Homo sapiens: one gene and its partners. The protein of the gene in region 5 purifies or fractionates together with the protein of the main gene of each other region. This does not show direct contact. Each region holds a gene or a part of one and is shown on either strand. Other genes may lie near its edges.

Region 1 (3,495 bases), on a different chromosome or scaffold from region 5:
TGGCAGGGATTTGGTTCAAAGATGATCGTGGATTGGACTAGAGAGGTGAACATTAAGGAAACATTTTCAAAGAGCTTGTGGGTCTTGATGGATTAAATATCGAGTGTTAGAAAAGAAGGATGACTTGATTTGGGTTTTGGGCAACTTTAACAATGATGGTGTCAATTACTAAAAAACTAAAAGAGAATAATCTGAGGCACAAACCGTGAGTTCTTTTTGGAGTGCATGCCGTGTTAAGGAAAGCATCTAAGTGGACTGTTTTTGGGAACTCAAAGAGATCAGGGCTGGAGATAATCGGGATGTAAAGTAGCACATGAAGGGGTTTTTAGAGCCAAGAGCCTGGATGAGATCTTCTAGACAGGCTGCACTTTAGGGCACTATCAAAGGTCGTGATCAGGAAAAGGAGGGTACCGCAAATTAGAGCAGGACCTAAAGAATCCCAATTTTACGTCATAATTTTCACTAAAATGTTTCAGAGACTATTGAAACACACCGACTGATTAAAATCTCAGCAGTAATCTGTATTTTAAATTTCCTTACTCAAATGCAAATTATGCATTCTAAGACTTTCAAAACACAGTTCTGAAATAACTGCACAATATAGTCAAAACATATTTATTACTTTTCAGTGTCATTTTGTACACTCCCGTACAAATACAAGAATATAGCCATATTTACAGGTATTGAAAAGAAATCTGTATATTCAAACCCAACATCTAAATACAGTAGCTGGAAGTCCTGAACTACAATAGTTCCGGTGCGCAGAGTGAATTATTTCCCGCGTTGCCCTCTCCCCTTTCAAACAGTCCCTCAAAGATATGGTGGTTTTTGAACATAATAAACTGTTTTTGGAAATGGGTAACAATTCCTGGCAAAGTTTTAAGAACCTCCTTCCCAAGATTTTACAAGTGTGAAACAAAGATTTAGAAGAAAAATAAAACTACTAATTTGGACTGTTAAAAGAAGCATAATGTCTTGAAACAGGGCTGAAGCATGTTTTTAGTCTGGAATTGCAGTCATTTTAAAATCAGGTTAGACAAGTTAGAAAAATAAAAAGCGTAGGAAAGCTGGTTCTTCAGGGGAGTCTGTAACCTTCTTTCATCAAATATATTGTTACAATACCACGACATTTTAAAAGTTTGAATAGAGACTACTGATCTTTTAAAACGGGGGGGGGGGGGGGGGGGCAGGGGGAGGGAAAGGCCACTCAAGTTCCCTAGAGGCTATTCAGTACTTCTATTTTCAAAGTATCTAAACCAAGGTACATGTTCAAATCCATAACCAACTAGATAAGGAATACTCTAGTCCAGAACATTATGCTTATTTTAATAGATATTCCCTAGTTAAGGTTAGGAGCTGGATACCTTGTATTAAGGTGCAATATTTAAAATATTTCCACAAAATTTTAGATTTTCTGTGTTTAAAAATTCACTACTGGCCAGGAGCGGTGGCTCACGCCTGTAATCCCAGCACTTTGGGAGGCCAAGGCAGGCAGATCACCTGAAGTTGGCAGTTCAAGACCAGCCTGACCAACATGGAGAAACCCCATCTCTACTAAAAATACAAAATTAGCCAGGCGTGGTGGTGCATGCCTGTAATCCCAGCTACTCGGAACGCCGAGGCAGGAGAATCGCTTGAACCCAGGAGGCAGAGGTTGCGGTGAGCCGAGATCGTGCCATTGCACTCCAGCCTGGGCAACAAGAGTGAAACTCTGTCTCAAGAAAAAAAAAAATTCACTATTAAGAAATACCAAATTAGGCATCTTCTCCTAAATATATGTGACTAATTCATTTAGGGATGTAAACTTTTTTGAAAAACAAAACATAGGTACACAGACCAGTAGACTATAAGCAAATCAAATTCAAATTTACCTAAATCACAAATTGCCATCTGATCAGGAAACATTTGCCTATTACAACAAATTGCTCACTTCTTTCCAGGAAAGATACAGTAAGGTTTCTAGCTGAACACACAGCTCTTTGGGGTTTCATTTACATGCACTAGTTAAATTCAGCAGATGTTAACAATCTCACAGAGGTATAAACATGACAATAAATTAATGACATGTCTTTTCTTACATTTAAAAAGTATCCTTAAATTACAGGAAAATATCTTCAAGATTTTAATTCCTTTTAATTACACTGGAACATTTTTGTATTTTAGAAAACACCAACACTATCGCTTACAGTTAACTTTTTGAGCTTACTGAAAAGCCTGAACATTTAACTTCCATACTTTCAATATATGCTTAAAGCACAAGAGCAATTTCAAAATTTATGTTAGCATCCGAGAATGTAGTAACATTGACATTGATGTCTAACATAAAAAATAAGCCCTTGGTGCTGCCAGTTTTGGAAGCACTTATCTGCCCCAACAGAAAAAAAAAAAAAAAAAAAATCACCAAAAAACCCTAAACCAATTTAAAGAAAAAAAAGAAGAAGAAGAAGAAACACCTTTCTAAATCAGATGGCAAGATTTTGATGGTAAAGGTTTTTTTGTGGGGGAAGAAAAGATTTTTTTCATGCGGAAACCCTTGTGATTTGATACATTACTGGCAGTGTGAAGCTAAGGCTATGTGACTAATATTTCAGCAAAGGAAAAAAAAAGTCAAGGTAATTTTATAGTAGCAATAGTTTCTTTTTTTATTTTAATATACTTTAGGAAACAATATACAAAGCTGCGCTTTCCTGCTATTTCCAGATAACAGCAGGAAGCTCCAATTACACAAATTTAGCGTTTTGTGATGGCTAAGAACAGCAGTCAGCACCAGACTTGAACAGTTAGCTACAACACAAACATCCTTCCAAATGAAATGTCATAATAGCAAGACAGGTAAACCAGGGTTTAACAAATGACAACCACTTGGGAAGTGACTTAATCATTCTTGTTGAATTTCTTATTTCATTAAATATCTCATACACAATTTCCTGTTAATACGTTTTAAACAAAACCTCCCTTAAGGAATTATTTCAATTAAGTATAAATATTCAACAAGAACAGTTCTGATAAAGAATCCCCAGGTAGTTCAAATGCTAATGTGCACTGACCGAAGGAAAAGAAAAATAACAATTTTTGTTTGTTTTAACATGTTTATTACAACAGATACAATTCACATCTGACTAGCTCTGTTTCCTCTTTCCCCTCCCACAACCACGTTCATTGGGCCATTTCCTTATATTTGAGCAATCAATGTACTTTGAGCACACATGCCTGTCCAGCAGTACTTTTAAGTCCATTCTTAACAGGGTGCAAATGGATTTCAATAATTTATACAAACAAGTAGGTTATGCTCAATCACTGCAATTTTAAGCTACTGTACACAGGAATGAAAAGGTTATAGAAAAGTGCCATAGCAACAGTGCCTTAAGAAAGGAGATAAAGAGGAGCCTTAAAAAAATGGATAAAATCAGAATTTCAGAAGGAAATGGAAACACACGGGAAATGAAAAACATTTCTCTGCAAAACAAATGGAGAAGCACTGCTCTTGATCAGGTG
Region 2 (4,312 bases), on a different chromosome or scaffold from region 5:
CTGATCCAGCCACTATTTCTTACTGGGATTAGTCCTAGAAGCCTCCTCATTCCATTTCTTAACCTTCTAATTGAACTTGCTGCTATTTGCAAACAAAGTTTTATTGGAATAGAGCTATGTTGATTTGTTTATGTATGGTCTGTGGCTGCTTTTGCACTGTAATGGCAGAGTAATTGTGACAGAGACCATATGGCCTGCAAAGCCTAAAATATTTACTGTCTGGCCTGTTACAGAAAAAGCTTGCAATTCTGCTCTAAGCTATTCTCCACACTGTAGCTAAACAGCTTTCTAAAACAGTTAGGTCATGTCACGCCCCCACTTGTAATCTTTCGTGTCTTATAAGGAGACCCTCATCTCTCTCACCGTGCTTTACCCTTGGCTGCGTGCTTCCAGAGTGTGTTCATGCTTCCATTGTATACGTACCATTTTGTATTTTAATGCTTAATCGTCTTCCTCACTGGACTCGGCCCCAGTATTTTGTTCCCCTTTGTATCTCTGGGATACTAGGTATGCAAGAAACATTTGACATCTGAGTAATTGCTGTATTTCTTTAAATGCATGTGTTATAGGTACCTGTCTATTGCACTAAGACTGGTGTAAAACATTTGCACCACAAGGCTCAAGAGTTTGACATTGGAGTTTATTTTGAAGCAAATGGGCATGGCACTGTAAGTTCTCTTAATTATAGTTGGCCTTAGCTGGCACTTTTCTTTATGATGAGACTTCTATATCTGGGAGGTAATAATAGGTAATATTGTACTTTGTTGAAATAATTGGATGTGACAAAAAGATCCTTTGGTTATCTTATATATTGATGTATTATGAAACTGTGATTCTCTTTTACATGGTAATGATTCTTCTTTGAATGTGAAGAGATATACTAAGGTGTTTTGAATAGTTTTTTAAAATTTACAGTTCTTAATTTTTTTATAAGTATGTTGTCTATGCATTTTCCGGCTGGCCATAGGAGAGGAAAAGAAAAATTCAGTCGCTATGGTGAATTGCAAAGTGTTGGAAAGTTGATAATTAATAAGAAATGAAAATGAATTTAAGGTAACTAGTGATAGGCATAAAATGTTTCAATTTACATTTTACATAAAATTACATTTTAAAGTGTATAATTTAGTTTTTTGTAGATTCATAATGTTCAGAATATTTTTAAAATGTTTTTATACTCACCTCATTTAATGAATACACTTGAGGTGGCTATCAGAACATTTGAATCAAAGCCAAATAATTTTCCTCATTAATTTAAAATTGGCTTTTGGAGGGCATAAATATAAAAAGGGGAAAAATAAGTTCCTACAAAATGCAATTAAGATATAACTTTAGTGATCGAATGGAGAAGTTGGTAAATTATTTTCTAAAGGGTAGAGAGTAAATATTTTTGGATTTTCAGGCCATAAGGTCTCTTACAGTTGTTTAACTCTGCTGATCTAGCTTAAATGAATCTGTGTGGTTGTGTTCCAGTAAAACTTTACAAAAACAGGTGACTAGCCTGTGCCTTATTTTATCAAGAAAAATGTATTTCATCAAGTAGTTGAGCATAGTATGCTAATCTTGCTCAGTATTAGGCCTCTAGAAGGCAGTAAAAAAGATGAGTATTTCCAAATGAGATAAGACTCTTGAGGAGCATGATGAATTATATATTGTAATGACTATCCATGACATTATTTGCCATATTTTGATGAATACTATGAACTCTTAATTTTGCCTAGCTCATCCCCTTAAGTTTTAGAATAAAACTATACTAGCTGCAATGAATTATATCCTTCAAAGTAAAAAGGATACAGACAGGCTCTAAGTAACCTGGTTGCACAGAAATGATTTAGCTGGTTAAAGGGAAAACATGAACTTACTGTGTGTGCTTGCCTCTTGTCAAGGTGGTGTTTTCTTTGTAATCAGATGTTTAAATTTTTATAACCAGTTATATAATCCGCAAATAAAATTTTTCCCCTAGTACTATCCTCTGGGTTTTAATGTGATCTTACATTAATTTCATACATTTTAAGGCTGCCACTATTTTTCCCCTCAGTTTCTCCAGATTGACTAGGAGGGAAAAGTGGGTTAGCTAGAATAATAGTACTTATGACTAGGTTTTGGATAGTGTTTTGAGACTGATTTTATATTCTTTTGCTGCAGGCACTGTTTAGTACAGCTGTTGAAATGAAGATAAAACAATCAGCAGAACAACTGGAAGATAAGAAAAGAAAAGCTGCTAAGATGCTTGAAAACATTATTGACTTGTTTAACCAGGTCAGAACTGATGGGGCAGTGGACTCTTGGTTACCTTTACATTATTCAGAAGATGGACAGAACAGAGTGTGGGTGCATACAAAATTAAAGTGGAGACGTCCTGGCCTGGTGGCTTCCTTCTAATAGTGGTATATTCAGTTGAGATTTATAATGAAATGGAATGACAGAACATTTTTTAATATGCTTCCCTTCCCCTACCTCTTATGATGGAAATTTTCAAGTATATTGGGTAGCTTCTACCTAGGATCACAGATTCAGCTACTCAGTGTATACATATATATTATTAATTTTTTTTTAACCAAACCTCGATGAAATTAAGTAAAAATAACTGGTTGTCAGGCCAGGCACGGTGGCTCATGCCTGTAATCCCAGCCCTTTGGGAGGCCAAGGAGGGCGGATCACGAGGTCAGGAGATCGAGACCCTCCTGGCTAACAGGGTGAAACCTCGTCTCTACTAAAAATACAAAAAATTAGCCGGGCATGGTGGCGGGCACCTGTAGTCCCAGCTACTCGGGAGGCTGAGGCAGGAGCATGGTGTGAACCCGGGAGGCAGAGCTTGCAGTGAGCCAAGATCACGCCACTGCACTCCAGCCTGGGTGACAGAGCGAGACTCTGTCTCAAAAACAAACACAAATAACTGGTTGTCTCATTGACAAAGGACATACATGTGGGTTAGTTGGGGTTGGAGTGTCGTTTGGCTATGGAAAAGCAGTACTCAGGGTAGAGGAAAGCGATTCAATTATTTGAGTGTCTTGCACACACTGGACACTTTATATACCTTGCTGTGTAATCCTTACAGTAACACAGGGAGAGGTGTTACTGTAATTTCCATTTTATAAGTGAAGAAACAGAGATTTATCTTCAGTTATATCTTATACCAAAGCTCATATTTCTCCATTTTACCTTGATGCTTTCTATCAATCATTGTGGGGTAATATCTCAAAAGGGATCTATTTATAAAAAGAAAAATGAGTGATGGAATGTTAGGCTGAGCCTTAGAGTTATCCAGTCTAATTTCATTTTATAAATAAGGAGTACTAAAGGCAAGTTTCTCAAGAGCTAGTTTCAGTATTCTTTGTTATACCTTTCATTGTCTTCCACAGAGATCTTCACCTCATTGTTCGTATTTTATCCATCCACAAAAACACTTCATTTAATCATGCTGCATGTGAGAAAGCACATGATATAGGCTGAGTATCCCTTATCCAAAATGCATGGGACTAGAAGTGTTTTGGGTTCCAGATTCACTGGATTTTGGGATATTTGCATATATATAATGTGACATCTTGGGTATGGCACTCAAGTCGGAAACACTAAATTCTTTTGTTTCATGTATGTTACATAAGATTAAAGGTGGTTTTATAGAATACTGTAAATTTAGTGCATGAAACAAAGTTTGTGTCTACTGAACCATCAGAAAGCAAAGGTGTCACTCTGTCAGCCACCCGTTGGACAATCTGTGGTTGTCTGGCATCACCATCATTCCTAAAACTCTGAATTTATATGCTATCAATCAATAAGCAATCAATCATTTTTTTACACTTATTCACACACAAGTATTTTAATAGTAAAAAATATGATACATATCTGGCATGCATGGAAACGATGTATCATAGCTGAAGGAGGCTGAGAGGGTCTTTTTCCCTTGGGGATGCTGAATGAACTGCGGGCCTGCCTTTAGTGGGTTTTTTTTGTTGTTGTTGTTGTTTTGTTTTGAGATGGAGTCTCGCTCTGTTGCCCACGCTGGAGTGCAGTGGCGCAATCTTGGCTCACTGCAACCTCTGCCTCCCGGGCTCAAGCAATTCTCCTGCCTCAGCCTCCCGAGTAGATGGGATTACAGGCGCCCACTACCACACCTAGCTAATTTTTGTATTTTTAGTATAGATGGCGTTTTACCATGTTGGCCAGGCTGGTTTCAAATTCCTGACAGTGAGGTCAGGAGTGCATTTGTTTTTTATTAAGAGACAAGGTCTTGCTATGTTGCCCAGGCTGGAGTGCATTGGCTGTTCACAGGCATTATCACAGCACACTGCAGCCTCAAACTCCTAGCTTCAAG
Region 3 (4,312 bases), about 83 Mb from region 5:
TTTGCACCCCAACAAACTGAACTCAGAGAGGTCCCTGCAAAACACAGCTGCCTCCTCGTGCCCACCTCCCCTGTGATTTCCCTGGCTTCTGGCAAGAGAAGAGAAGACGTGAGCAAAAGCTCAAGGGCAGAGATGAGTAAACAGGAACGGGGCGTGAAACTCAAACTCAGGGTGTGGGGATGGGATGGGGTGGAGTGGAGTGGAAGTGGGAATTTGAGGTGAGGTGAGACTGAAGGCCGGGGGACACGGCAGGCTGGGTCATGATGGGCCCAGAGACTCGAGCCAGGCAGATGTGACGTGAGGACTGGACATTCTAGACGCAAGGGAGGGCTGCAGTCAGCACTTTAGGCCTCTTTACCTCCTGTCGTTCCTGAGTGACTCTAGAAAGTTTCTTGAGAGCACTGGGCGAGAGGCTGGGAAGTCACAGGAAAGAAGCAGAGAGGAGGCTGGCCTGCAGGCTGATGGGCAATGTCTGGGCCAAGCCCATGTGGTAAATGCACATCTATCCCTCTCCTGTCCAGGCATGTGGGGCCTCGTTAACAATGCCGGCATCTCAACGTTCGGGGAGGTGGAGTTCACCAGCCTGGAGACCTACAAGCAGGTGGCAGAAGTGAACCTTTGGGGCACAGTGCGGATGACGAAATCCTTTCTCCCCCTCATCCGAAGGGCCAAAGGTGAGTGGGAAAGGGAGCTCCCTCCTGCCCCTGAACCTGCCCCACGTGTTCATCTTTGCTCAGAATGGAAATACCTGTCCCAGCAGCTCCAATGTCCACAACTCAGCAGAGGTGAGCTCGTGAATCCCAGGGACTATGCTGGGCCTGGGGTGATGGTGGGCAGAGGGGCTGTGGCCGGGTAGGGGAGGAGGAAGCAGAGCAGGTAAGAGGTCAGTGGTCCATGCAGCAAAAGCTTAAAGAGTTGAGCAGCCATCCACTCTGCACACCTAATCTATAGAGAGAATCACCCTTTGCACAAAGCTGTGTGTACACATCTTTGTATCAGTCAGGTGTGGTTAGTAAAATCTGGCATATTCATTCTATGGGTTATTTATATCGTAGTTTAAAAAATGAGATCATTGTGGTATTAGGGAACAATAGTAAAAATCAAGATTAGAAATTTGGAAAACCAACAAAACACCCAAACCATGTGGGTGGCCAAATGTGAGCAAACCACTTTAGAAGTCATTGACTTGGATTTTTTTCTCTGGCATAGCAAACAATTGTGGCAAAAAGGGTAAGATCCATACATCTATGGTGAAGTCCTAGCAACAACAAGCATGAACACAGACTGCAGCTGTAGGATTTTAGATGGAAACCCCAACCCTTCAGTGACTTCAAATTTAGAGCTTTCTGAAAGGTGCCTCCCCCAGGATGGGCTGAGTTCCCTCCCGGGGACACACCTGGATGGGCTGAGTGCCCTCCCGGGGACACACCTGGATGGGCTGAGTGCCCTCCCGGGGGCACACCTGGATGGGCTGAGTGCCCTCCCGGGGGCACACCTGGATGGGCTGAGGGCCCTCCCGGGGGCACACCTGGATGGGCTGAGTGCCCTCCCGGGGGCACACCTGGATGGGCTGAGTGCCCTCCCGGGGACACACCTGGATGGGCTGAGTGCCCTCCCCGGGACACACCTGGATGGGCTGAGTTCCCTCCCAGGAAAACTGGTCCCAGATCCGCCTCGGCTTCCCGGGCTGGGCCAAATGCAATCCACTTCCAACCCCTCTGTTCCCAGGGCCAGGAGGAGCTGTGGGAGGCCCCTGATGCCCCCAGGCTGGGCCTGTGGCCTTTGGAGGGGGATCACCACACTCTCCCAGTGCCCAGGACTCTCTCCTCATATCCTAGCCCTGAAGTCAGGTTCAGAAATCCTGCCCCTGCCCCTGCCTGCTGCTCTGTTTGCCAGGCGGTCCTGGTCTCCACCCAGGCTCCACCCTACCAGGGTGGAATGGAGTTGGGGAGTTGGGCCTAACAGCACGGGTCCTGTCCTCTTTCAGGGCTGTCCCGGGGCTCCCTCCCAGCTGCAGCCCCAGGTACTTCCTCGTCTGCACTCCAACCCCCATCGCCAGGGCTGCTGTCAGTGGCTAGACACTTGGCCCTAGTGTGCTACTTATCTGCACGTCGTACTACTGGAGCTGGACTTTAAGCTCCATAAGGGGAAGGGGAAGCTTTCAGGCTGTATTTCTCCCTCACCAGCACCAGACCTTGCCTATAGTGAAAGCTCAGATCCACACAGACAGCTGTCTCGCCTCCCACTTCTCCCCTCGTGTTTTCACCCCAAATTATCACCGCATCGGGCTTGATCTGGTTTTTGAGTCAGTTGCGTGTTGCCCATTACACTGTGCCCTGCTGCTTCTCACTCACTTGTCCTCCCCTGTCCTGCCTGGCACAGCCAGGTTCCCAGGGAAGACCAGGGGTGCCGATGCTGATGCGTGGGCCTGAGCTGGCCTTGCCTATTGACTGAGAAGGCTCCTGGGTGGCTCAGAAGTGGTTCCAGCCAAGCCTCTAGAGACATGCCAGACTTCTGCCCGCTGTGTCATAGGGCAGTAACGGCTTAGCAGGTACCTCTGTCTCCCTCTGTAGGCCGCGTCGTCAATATCAGCAGCATGCTGGGCCGCATGGCCAACCCGGCCCGCTCCCCGTACTGCATCACCAAGTTCGGGGTAGAGGCTTTCTCGGACTGCCTGCGCTATGAGATGTACCCCCTGGGCGTGAAGGTCAGCGTGGTGGAGCCCGGCAACTTCATCGCTGCCACCAGCCTTTACAGCCCTGAGAGCATTCAGGCCATCGCCAAGAAGATGTGGGAGGAGCTGCCTGAGGTCGTGCGCAAGGACTACGGCAAGAAGTACTTTGATGAAAAGATCGCCAAGATGGAGACCTACTGCAGCAGTGGCTCCACAGACACGTCCCCTGTCATCGATGCTGTCACACACGCCCTGACCGCCACCACCCCCTACACCCGCTACCACCCCATGGACTACTACTGGTGGCTGCGAATGCAGATCATGACCCACTTGCCTGGAGCCATCTCCGACATGATCTACATCCGCTGAAGAGTCTCGCTGTGGCCTCTGTCAGGGATCCCTGGTGGAAGGGGAGGGGAGGGAGGAACCCATATAGTCAACTCTTGATTATCCACGTGTGGATTATCCACCATGCCAGGAAGACCCATAACTGGTTTTAACACTAACTAGAGGGAATGACTTCTTTGCATAGTGAGTGACTTGGGCCTTCACAAACAGGGTGTGGAGTGGCAGGCAGAGGCCTCTAAATCTCAGGGCAAACATGGTGAATCTATCTCTCCGGAGATAATTTCATACAGAGATTTTAAGAAAACATCTTTATATTAAAAACAGATCTCATTTGATCCTTAAGCCAGTCTCATGAATGAAAAGGACAGGTTTTTTTCTTTTGTAAATGAAGCATTTGCAGCTTAAAGAGGATGCATGAAATAACCCTTTTATCGCTTATAAATAGTGCCAGTTATGTGTTCCTGCCACGGCTGTGGAAATACTTCACATTTGCATTCCAGGACTGTTTTGGATCCATTTGCCCGAGAATCTTCTGACTAACTCTGTGTCCTCATCTGGGCAGCACACACCAAGTGCCCACTGGTACCTCTGCATGTCCATGGTGCTGTGTGACTGGCCAGCCAGCAGCCAGTGACTCAGAGCTGGCTGTATGGAGGGGGTGGGAATGTTTCTGGAGATTTTTGTTTTTCCAGACACAGTCTTGCTCAGTCCCCTAGGCTGGAGTGCAATGGCACCATCTCCGCTCACTGCAACCTCCGCCTCCCTGGTTCAAGCGGTTCTCCTGCCTCAGCCTTCCAAGTAGCTGGGGTTATAGGCACCCACCACCATGCCGGGCTAATTTTTGTATTTTTAGTAGAGATGGGGTTTCACCATGTTGGCTAGGCTGGTCCCGAACTCCCGACTTCAAGTGATCCGCCTGCCTTGGCCTCCCAAAGTGCTGGGATTACAGGCATGAGATTTTTACTTGAGATTTTTCCATCCTCTTTTAGGACTCAGGATAGACTTGTGTGGAGGTGCTCTCTGGCTAAGGGGATAAGTTGTTACTGGTTTGGGTCTGCTTGGTTTTGCCTTGGGTGGGGCCGGTGTCGATGGGGCAGGCTTGGCACGAGCAGTGGTGCCATGGCAGGGCACTGTGGCATCTCCCCTAGCAGTGGATTTGGGGTCCCTGCTTGCCTCACGTGGTGCTTACACACATGTACACACACACACACACACACACACACACACACACCTTACACACATGTACACACACACACACACACACACACACACACACACACACACACACAC
Region 4 (4,312 bases), on a different chromosome or scaffold from region 5:
CTGATACATTAGTTTTCTTCTGGAGAACTCAGTACATTTTTAAATATATTATTTCATTTCATCCTCCCTGCATTCCTTCCAGGTAGGGAGACACAGTTGTACAAAACTTGATTTTTAAAATGAGGAAAGCAATGCTTAAAGGGGTGCTTTCATTTTCATTTGGCCTTACACAGGTTTGGAGTCAGGACCAGGACTAAAATTACATCTTCTGATAATTAAGAAATGACAGTAATGTTACAGCTAGGAGCAGCTTTTCTGATATAGCTGGCACATATTAGGGTGCATGGATTTTCAAAGCCATGTCTGCCCTTTGCTCCTGCTACCCCTGCAGAGTGCACGGCCTGGAGATAGAGGGCAGGGACTGTGGCGAGGCCACCGCCCAGTGGATAACCAGCTTCCTGAAGTCACAGCCCTACCGCCTGGTGCACTTCGAGCCTCACATGCGACCGAGACGTCCTCATCAAATAGCAGACTTGTTCCGACCCAAGGACCAGGTGAGAGGTTCTGCTGCCTCCATGGGTAGAAAGCAGTCACCCCCAGATCAGGGGGCTCAGGTGGCATCTCTGATGACCTCGGCTCTGTTGTTTTCTGGGGCAGCCCTCTGGTAGCTCAGATCACAAGCAGTAGGCAGAAATAAAGCCCTTCCCTTGGAAGCATTGTTTGTTTCTTTGTTTGGGGGACTCTTGAATTTTTGCCCTTGAGCATCTACCTTCCTATTTGTGTAAGCATTCTGATGCCAGTAGGGTTTCAAAACTGTTCTGCACCAGTGTCTTTTTTTCATTCCATTCTGTAATTGCACATGGAGTCCAGAATTTTTACAGTTTGCAGTTGTATGTCAGATTCCAATTGTGCAAGTTGGCATGGGTATGGAGATACACAGACTCAAATGATCAGCCTTAATGGCATAAAGCTCTAAGGATTCATCATAAAAGCAGGGTTTGTAGTACCATATACTGCTTTTACCATGGCCATAAAAAAAATAAATTATGCTGTAGTCCTTACTGCTAAGGAGGCTGAGGTGGGAGGATTGCTTGAGTCCAGAGAGTTGAGGCTGCAGTGATCTGTGATGGCACCATTGCACTACAGCCCAGGTGACAAGGAGTCTCTGTCTCAAAATATATAAATAAAGAAACAAGCAAATGCATAAATTATGGTCAACATAAATATTAATTTGTAAGTTGCATAAAATAAGTATTCATGGAATTAGTGAACATTTAAATCAAACATAATGAGGTCATCAAACTCAACCACCTTATTAAACATTTGAGAAATGGGAGGCTTAGAAAGGTTCAGTGATGTCCCCAAGGGCACATGCCTTGTGGCAGCTTAGGATTGATTCTGAGTCCTTGTTCCCTTCATTCCACCATGCAGTTTCTGCTATCTGCAAGGCTATTGAAAACTTCTGAGTCACTGTGACTTCTATTAAAAGAACAAGAGAACTACTTTGAAAGATTGTGTGTGGGGTGGGGTGGAGCATGGAGGCTATGTCTAGGAACTAGGCACACCTAACCACTGAAAAGTTGGTGTGCCATGTGTTATAACAATGTCTATTTCCTTATCAGATTGCTTACTCAGACACCAGCCCATTCTTGATCCTTTCTGAGGCGTCGCTGGCGGATCTCAACTCCAGGCTAGAGAAGAAAGTTAAAGCAACCAACTTCAGGCCCAATATTGTAATTTCAGGATGCGATGTCTATGCAGAGGTAACACTATGCCCCTTTGGATCTTTCCTTGGATTTGACTTCTTTTTTAAGGTATGAGAGTCTTTGACATTGGATTAGATTATTCTGAAGGGTGCATTATTTATCAACTCTGTAATACATAACAATTTGATTTTTAGATTTATTCAGCACTTAATAAGTGCAGACTTCTGTGTGGAGGATACAAATGTTGATGGGTCAGAGACTGTCATCAAGGAGGCAGTTCAGTATCTAAGGCTTCTAAGGAGAATTCTGAGTTGACAGGTTCGTTGTTGAGTCACATTTTCTTGCATAGACTACATGATCTGTGTGGGCCATGGAACAAAGAAAGTGTGTGCTCCTGTCTTGTTAAAGGATGGTCTTACTGTTTAGTAGACGGCTCTCTTGGAGAAGACAGGCATTTACTGCAAGGCTGCTGGGTGAGGGTTGGGAGAGGTTGTTGCCCCTAAGCTTCATGGCACTACCCTGAAATGCTTGCAGTGCCACCTTCCATCTGCCCTCAGATGTTTGCGTGGTGACTTAGCTTGAACAGCCCTGAGGCTTGGTTTCTGGGATTCCACAGGATTCTGGCAGCAAATTTACCTTTGTAATAAATGGCCTTTGGCTATTTAACTTGATTCTCTCCCTGGGCTTCCATGAAGGCAGAGGTTGGTGGCCTAGAGGCATGGTGAGTGGCCACCAGCTGTGGATACTCAACAGAAACCCTGACCCACAGCTAGGAATTCAGGAGCTCTGGTTGTGCCTCAAATTTATGTTGAGAAGGGAGAGGTAAAGGGGACCATATAGTGGTTCTTACGTCTGCCCATTTCCTCCATAACAGGGAAAAATGGAATCAAAGCAATTGAGTTTTAACCTTTTATCCTCAGAGGAGCCAATTATATTCTTCACTTTTGCTGTACGGAGGCAAAACTATGCTGAAAGAGAAATAATCTAAGAATTTGATTCCCACATTCAAACCAGAAGATGTGACGGCTGGTTTCAGCTTCTGCACTGGCTTCTGCATGACTTTGAGCAGCCCCGCTAAGTCCCATTTACCTTGCCTGAACAATGAGATGATCATATTTCTGCCTAGGGTTACCTTAAGGGTCTGTTGAAGGGTCAGTTTGGATAATGTAATTTATGAGATGTATAAAAGCAATATCAATCGATGGAGGATAATAAAAGTACGCCCAAATCCACTGCTAATGCTTCATATAAAATACTCATTGCTCCAAACTTCCAAGGGTAGCGTTTCTTCTAAAGATGGTGGAGAACTTCCTAGTGTGAGGCGGGTGGACTGTGTGCATGTCCCCCAAGGTCCTGGGTTGGGCATCTCTCAGTGCTTCTTTGTGACAAGAAATTTCTGCCTGTCCTGCTCCTGTGCACCATGGGCCAGCCTGACTTAGACAACAGGAAAATAATCAGTGTTTGGTTGCCTTTGACCATCTCCTTGATATTCATCTTCCACCAGCTATGGCTAGGAGAGCCATTTCTCCTGAGAACGTTCCTTCTCAGGAAAAGAGAAATGAGTGGGGAGGGTTTTGAATGAATACTTGTGTTGCGCTTAAGTATGTTGTCTCTTCTATGCCTCACGGCAGCCCAGCGGGATAAAGCTATCATTCCTATCTTACAGGAGAGAAGAGAGAGGCTTGGGGAGGTGAGGTGGCCTGCCCTAGGCTATACCACAGCAAGGAGGGGCTGGGTTTTGAACCCCAATTGTACAAGGCCAGAGGAACCCTGAGAATTCTAGGGCATATGTATGGGGCTGGGACAGCTGGATTCTAATCCACCTGCTTCCGCAAGTGACCGTACAAGCCTGGACAGGTCACCAAACTCGCCGAGGCATCTGCTTCTTGCAGTTGTAAAACACGGGCAGTTTCAATGACTCCCTCGCCTGATGGGAGCTGTGAGAATCAAGGTCGATGACAATTTGTGGAAAAGTTCTAGGACATTAAGTACCACAGGGAGGTAAGGAAGAGTTTCATTCCTGGGAGTTTGGCTCAGGTACCAGCTTTTTCCCTATGATCGACTTTAAGCTTTCTTTCTCCCCTGTGTGATTTGTGCACCGAGGGTCATGCTGAAGCCATTTCCACCCCAAAATTCTGTGACAGTAAGATTCGGATGACAGGAGAAGAGGAGATGGCCCAGAGTAGAACTTCAGATCTCGGAGATTTCTTTCAATTGAGTCTTACTCTAAAAACCCGTATCTCTCTCTCTATCTCTGAGTGTTCCCTAGTTGAGAACATTCTGTATGTGAAGCTGGGCGGTAACACAATGGTGGCTGAGCCGGCCTTGTTTTTAGTAATTCACCCATCATCGAGTGGGTTGCTGCCCCTGTGTGGCATGCGCTGTGAATAGACACATGAGAACAAGGGTTGAAGAAATGCACTTGCTTCTCCTAAGGAGCTCAGTGTGGTCAGATAGTGAAAAGTCACAGCACAGTGAGATATGGCCAGGAGGGTGGCGAGCAGCCAGACGTGGGGACGTGACTAACACCTGCATTGTGGGGTGAGCTGAAGCATGGGGCACCCAGGGCTCTGGTCTCAAACCCTTTCTCATTTGTCTGCACTCACTTTTCTGATCTGTTCTTTCTTTCCTTTTTTTTTTTTATTTAATCATCTGTTTTTAAGACC
Region 5 (4,312 bases):
CTTACAAGATACTTCTCCATCGGAGAGGCACTGGAACCAGTCTGGCTGAAGGGCCTTCTGAATTGCCATGAACTTGGAAACAGTCATTTCCACTCGTCCTGCAACACTCCACACAGACACAGACTGCCATGGAGCAAAATGATGAGGAATTAGCAAGAGTAAAATGCAAATAAAAATAAAATAATTAAAATGATAAAGCAATAATTCTTCTTTACAACTGCAGAGATGGTGACAATTCAATATCCAGACATGGTGGGTAATAGGATCTTATAGCTTACAGATAATCCTTCAGTGGTCATATAAGACAACTTTTGAGCTACCCACCAAGAATTCTTTGTTATACTTTTCTAACATCTTCTGCTCTCCCCTATCCCACCTGCCCCACCCCTACCTAACCCTTGCTGTTCCTGAATATACCACAGACTTTGATCACACTGTTCCTTTTGACTGACAGTTCCGTATTTCTTTTTCTTTTTTTTATTGATACATATTTGTATAATGTTATGGGGTACATGTGAGACATCTTACATATAGGGCAAGTGTAATAATCATGTCAGAGTATTTAAGTATCCATCACCTCAAGTATTTATTATTTCTAGGTGCTGGAACTTCTACTTCTTTGCCTGGCAAAATACTACGTGTCCATTGAGACACTGAGTTCACATATTAATCTGATCTCCAAACCTCCTGGACATAATCGATCACTCACTCCTCTATGCTCTTACATCAATTTGTATTTATTTCTTTATAGAAATGATAGCACTTATTACACCATTCTTTATTTGTCTGACTAGAGTATCCCAATTCATGTATGTATCCCAAAAGCACAGTCTAGGGCCCTATACATTTTTAATATCTAGTGTTTACTAGACTGAGTTAGATATAGAATTAAAGACTTAAATCTCCTAGTTCAAGAGAGTATATATTAGTAATATTCTATCTTTGAGCTAAAAGCAAAACTACCATTCAACCCAGCAATCCCGTTACTGGGCATATACCCAGAGCAATATAAATCATTCCGCCATAAGGACACATGCATGCAAATGTACATTGCAGCACTATTCACAATAGCAAAGACATGCAATCAACCTAAATGTCCATCAATGATAGATTGGATAAAGAAAATGTGGTACATATATACCATGGGATATTATACAGCCATAAAAAAGAATGAGGTCACGTCTTTTGCAGGAACATAGATGGAACTGGAGGCCATTGTCCCTAGCAAACAAATGCAGGAACAGAAAATCAAATACCACATGTTCTCACTTATAAGTGGGGGCTAAATGATGAGAACACATGGACACAAAGAAGGGAACAACAGACACTGGGGTCTACTTGTGAGTGAAGGGTGAAAGGAGGGAGAGAAGGATAAAAGGTAACTATTGGGTACTAGGCTTAATACCTCAGTGATGAAATAATCTGTACAACAAACCCCCATGACACAAATTTACCTATGTAACAATGTTTACACGTACCCCCGAAACAAAAATAAAAGTTAAAAAAAGGGAAAAAAAAATTCTATCTTTGGTTACCCTACAGATCCCTCTTCTCAGATCAACAAGGACATAGATGGCAGGCCAACATATAGTCGTTTTATTTTATACTAAGGCATCAGAATTACTGGTTAAATGATTCCTCTCTCCCTTACAATTTGGGTAGAAAATGGAAGTCAAAGTATTTTTTTTTTTTTTTGAGACAGAGTCTCGCTCTATCACCCAGGCTAGAATGCAATGCACTGGTGCGACTTTGGCTCACTGCCACCTCTGCCTCCCAGGTTCAAGTGATTCTCTTGCCTCCACCTCCCAAGTAGCTGGGATTATAGGCGTGTGCCACCACACCTGGCTAATTTTTGTATCTGTAGTAGAGATGGGGTTTTGCCATGTTGGACAGGCTGATCTCGAACTCCTGAGGCTCAAGCCATCTACCCACCTTGGCCTACCAAAGTGCTGGGATTACATGCATGAGCCACCATACCCAGCCAAAGTATTTTCTCTAGAATTCAAACTACAAAATAAATAGAAACTTAAAACAGGAGAATGAGTAAAAACAGTGTTCTGAGGGGCACAATTAATAAATATTGCTGACATTAATAAAGTGAGTGCAGGAAAAGTATTTGCGTTTGTAAAGTAGCAGTACACACTGAAGCTTTGCCAGAATGCTGTCCTCAGGGATAATGCCAATGGGGCCACCTCTCAGCCTAACACTTTTAATGAGGTGCTTTTGATACTGTTCTTCACTAGACAAAATCTCTGGCTGTAGACCCAGCAGACAATATTATATTGAGATTCTACTATATATAGTTATACATGTGATAATACTCATCAGCAACTTTCCCCACTCTTCCTGAAGTTGTTAAAAATCCAACAAAGCATGGCGCCGAAAGACTATCGTTTTCCCCTATCATAGCAATTTCTTTTTTTGGCATGTATTTGACCCTCCTCTACCCTCAAATTTTTTTGCAACAATGAAAATGCTGAGGATACAGTGTTCTTCATCTTAACCTCATCCTTAGGCAGCCCTACTCTAAGTCTTATAAACCATCCCATCCCACTATAATTATCGAAATAAGGAAAAGGTATAAGGGATCATCCCAGACAGTGGGATCTGAGCATCTGAGGGATACACCATAGGCTGACTTCCTGGGACAAAGCTGCAGCCTTGGAGACCCTTCTGAAAACACACCTTGTTTGTTACATAACCAGCCGGGCAGGGGCTGACTGGATCGTGCAGGGAGCAGTACAAGAGTGATTCTGGCATGCCTGTATAAACACAAAAAAGAACCCTTGAAAGTGCTTACATCAACAATGACACTGTATTATAGCAGGGAGCAGCTTCGCAATGTGTACTGCTGAATAAAGCAACTCTAAACACTGTCAATAGGTTGTATCTGAACTTGGAATTAGAGAAGGCCTATCAATATGTATAAAAAGATTACTAATCTAAAGAAAGAAATATAAAGCTTCACGTCTAATAAATAGGTACTGAGCTGCTACAAAGGAAAGATGTATCTTAAAGCACAATATACAATGAAAGTATTTAGTGACATGTTGATCTCATTTGACTTTACTTAAAGAATTTACTATCAAATATGCTTATTCCAGGTACCATCCAAGGGGAACTAGCTACCGCAAAGATAAAATGATATGCCCACAAAGTGATCTCACTAATAATAAATCTCAATAATATCATGGGTCCCTAGGGGCAGAATTTTAGAGAAGCTATAGGATGCTGCAAATGGATCCCATTCTTAGTAAGTTTCATTGATTCACGATGACAGTTTCTTAAGTTCTTCAGTCAAAAAGACAATCATTTTTTAAAAAATGCAAAAAAAGTTTAGTAAACCATGTGCCTAAATATCATATGCTAGCCCACATTTTCGTTAAGGAAAATAAAACAGGATTCCAGTGAAAAAAAAGCAAGTGTAAAACCTCTGCAGTTTTTTCACTTTATTTTCCATAATTTCAATTATTACAATTATCTCTAGAAAGCCTACATTAGCTATTTTCATTTAATTATATGCTTGTATACTTTAAAGCTGGTTATTAAAATTGGGCTCAGGTCAAGGAGAATGATATTCCATAAATTCCTCTACTAAAATACAGGGCTTTGTGATAACCAACAGGACATCATGCAGCTGCTCTCAGAAGCAGAAGACTGAATAACCAATGGAAACAGGATTTTCATTCAAGTGAGTCCTAGATACCAGAAAAAGCGTTAGGAGAAAGCGGTGTATAGAAGAACTGATGTTCTAGCTGTCACTGCTAAGCTTTTCCTATAAATAAATAGATGCATACATCTGCATATAAAATCCTATTTCTGGAATAAAGGATAATATTAACATATCAGAATACAGCCATATACAAACGCTTCATCCTCCCCTGCATGTTTGAGGTTCAAGCATGATGAGACTACTTTGGAGCTCACGAATGCCCCATGCAAGTTCTCACCGCTGAGTCAGATACTCAGTGCCTGCAGCATCTGCCCCACACCTGTCTGGGCTCCCACTCCTAACCTGGGTAACTTTTACTCTTCCTTGACCCAGCTAAAATGCCCCTCAACTTCTCTCTCAAGAATCCTTTCTCTGGGTTTTTATGGAGGCGTAAACAAAAAAAAGAATCCGTTTTTTATTCTGACCACCTTGCACATATACCCTAGAGCAGGTTATATGCTCTGCCCTCTGGCCTGTCATGATATCCATACATATCCCTAATCCTGTAAAGCAGTAACCACAATTTTTACTAGAATTCTCTATCTTTATCCCAGCTAGGCTCCAAATTCCATGAGAGCAGCAACTGTTTCCTATTCAATC

Evidence for each region.
Region 1: the proteins of QTRT2 (region 5) and WAC fractionate together in Homo sapiens (co-fractionation; one large-scale study listed by BioGRID). This does not show direct contact.
Region 2: the proteins of QTRT2 (region 5) and PGM3 purify together in Homo sapiens (affinity purification with mass spectrometry, with the first as the bait; one large-scale study listed by BioGRID). This does not show direct contact.
Region 3: the proteins of QTRT2 (region 5) and BDH1 purify together in Homo sapiens (affinity purification with mass spectrometry, with the first as the bait; one large-scale study listed by BioGRID). This does not show direct contact.
Region 4: the proteins of QTRT2 (region 5) and MTARC1 purify together in Homo sapiens (affinity purification with mass spectrometry, with the first as the bait; one large-scale study listed by BioGRID). This does not show direct contact.

The regions. Positions count from the first base shown.
Region 1 is NC_000010.11:28,620,118-28,623,612, reverse strand, and holds the end of WAC (WW domain-containing adapter protein with coiled-coil), read right to left. Parts: 3' UTR 501-3,495; downstream 1-500.
Region 2 is NC_000006.12:83,172,318-83,176,629, reverse strand, and holds part of PGM3 (phosphoacetylglucosamine mutase), read left to right. Parts: intron 1-569; coding exon 570-668; intron 669-2,142; coding exon 2,143-2,256; intron 2,257-4,312. UniProt on the Homo sapiens protein: Catalyzes the conversion of GlcNAc-6-P into GlcNAc-1-P during the synthesis of uridine diphosphate/UDP-GlcNAc, a sugar nucleotide critical to multiple glycosylation pathways including protein N- and O-glycosylation.
Region 3 is NC_000003.12:197,510,626-197,514,937, reverse strand, and holds part of BDH1 (D-beta-hydroxybutyrate dehydrogenase, mitochondrial precursor), read left to right. Parts: intron 1-521; coding exon 522-674; intron 675-2,573; coding exon 2,574-3,043; 3' UTR 3,044-4,312.
Region 4 is NC_000001.11:220,796,312-220,800,623, forward strand, and holds part of MTARC1 (mitochondrial amidoxime-reducing component 1 precursor), read left to right. Parts: intron 1-331; coding exon 332-494; intron 495-1,562; coding exon 1,563-1,703; coding exon of another isoform or gene 1,704-1,754; intron 1,755-1,840; exon of another isoform or gene 1,841-1,964; intron 1,965-2,520; exon of another isoform or gene 2,521-2,878; intron 2,879-4,312. UniProt on the Homo sapiens protein: Catalyzes the reduction of N-oxygenated molecules, acting as a counterpart of cytochrome P450 and flavin-containing monooxygenases in metabolic cycles.
Region 5 is NC_000003.12:114,066,437-114,070,748, reverse strand, and holds part of QTRT2 (queuine tRNA-ribosyltransferase accessory subunit 2), read right to left. Parts: intron 2,763-4,312; coding exon 2,686-2,762; intron 124-2,685; coding exon 1-123. UniProt on the Homo sapiens protein: Non-catalytic subunit of the queuine tRNA-ribosyltransferase (TGT) that catalyzes the base-exchange of a guanine (G) residue with queuine (Q) at position 34 (anticodon wobble position) in tRNAs with GU(N) anticodons (tRNA-Asp, -Asn, -His and -Tyr), resulting in the hypermodified nucleoside queuosine (7-(((4,5-cis-dihydroxy-2-cyclopenten-1-yl)amino)methyl)-7-deazaguanosine).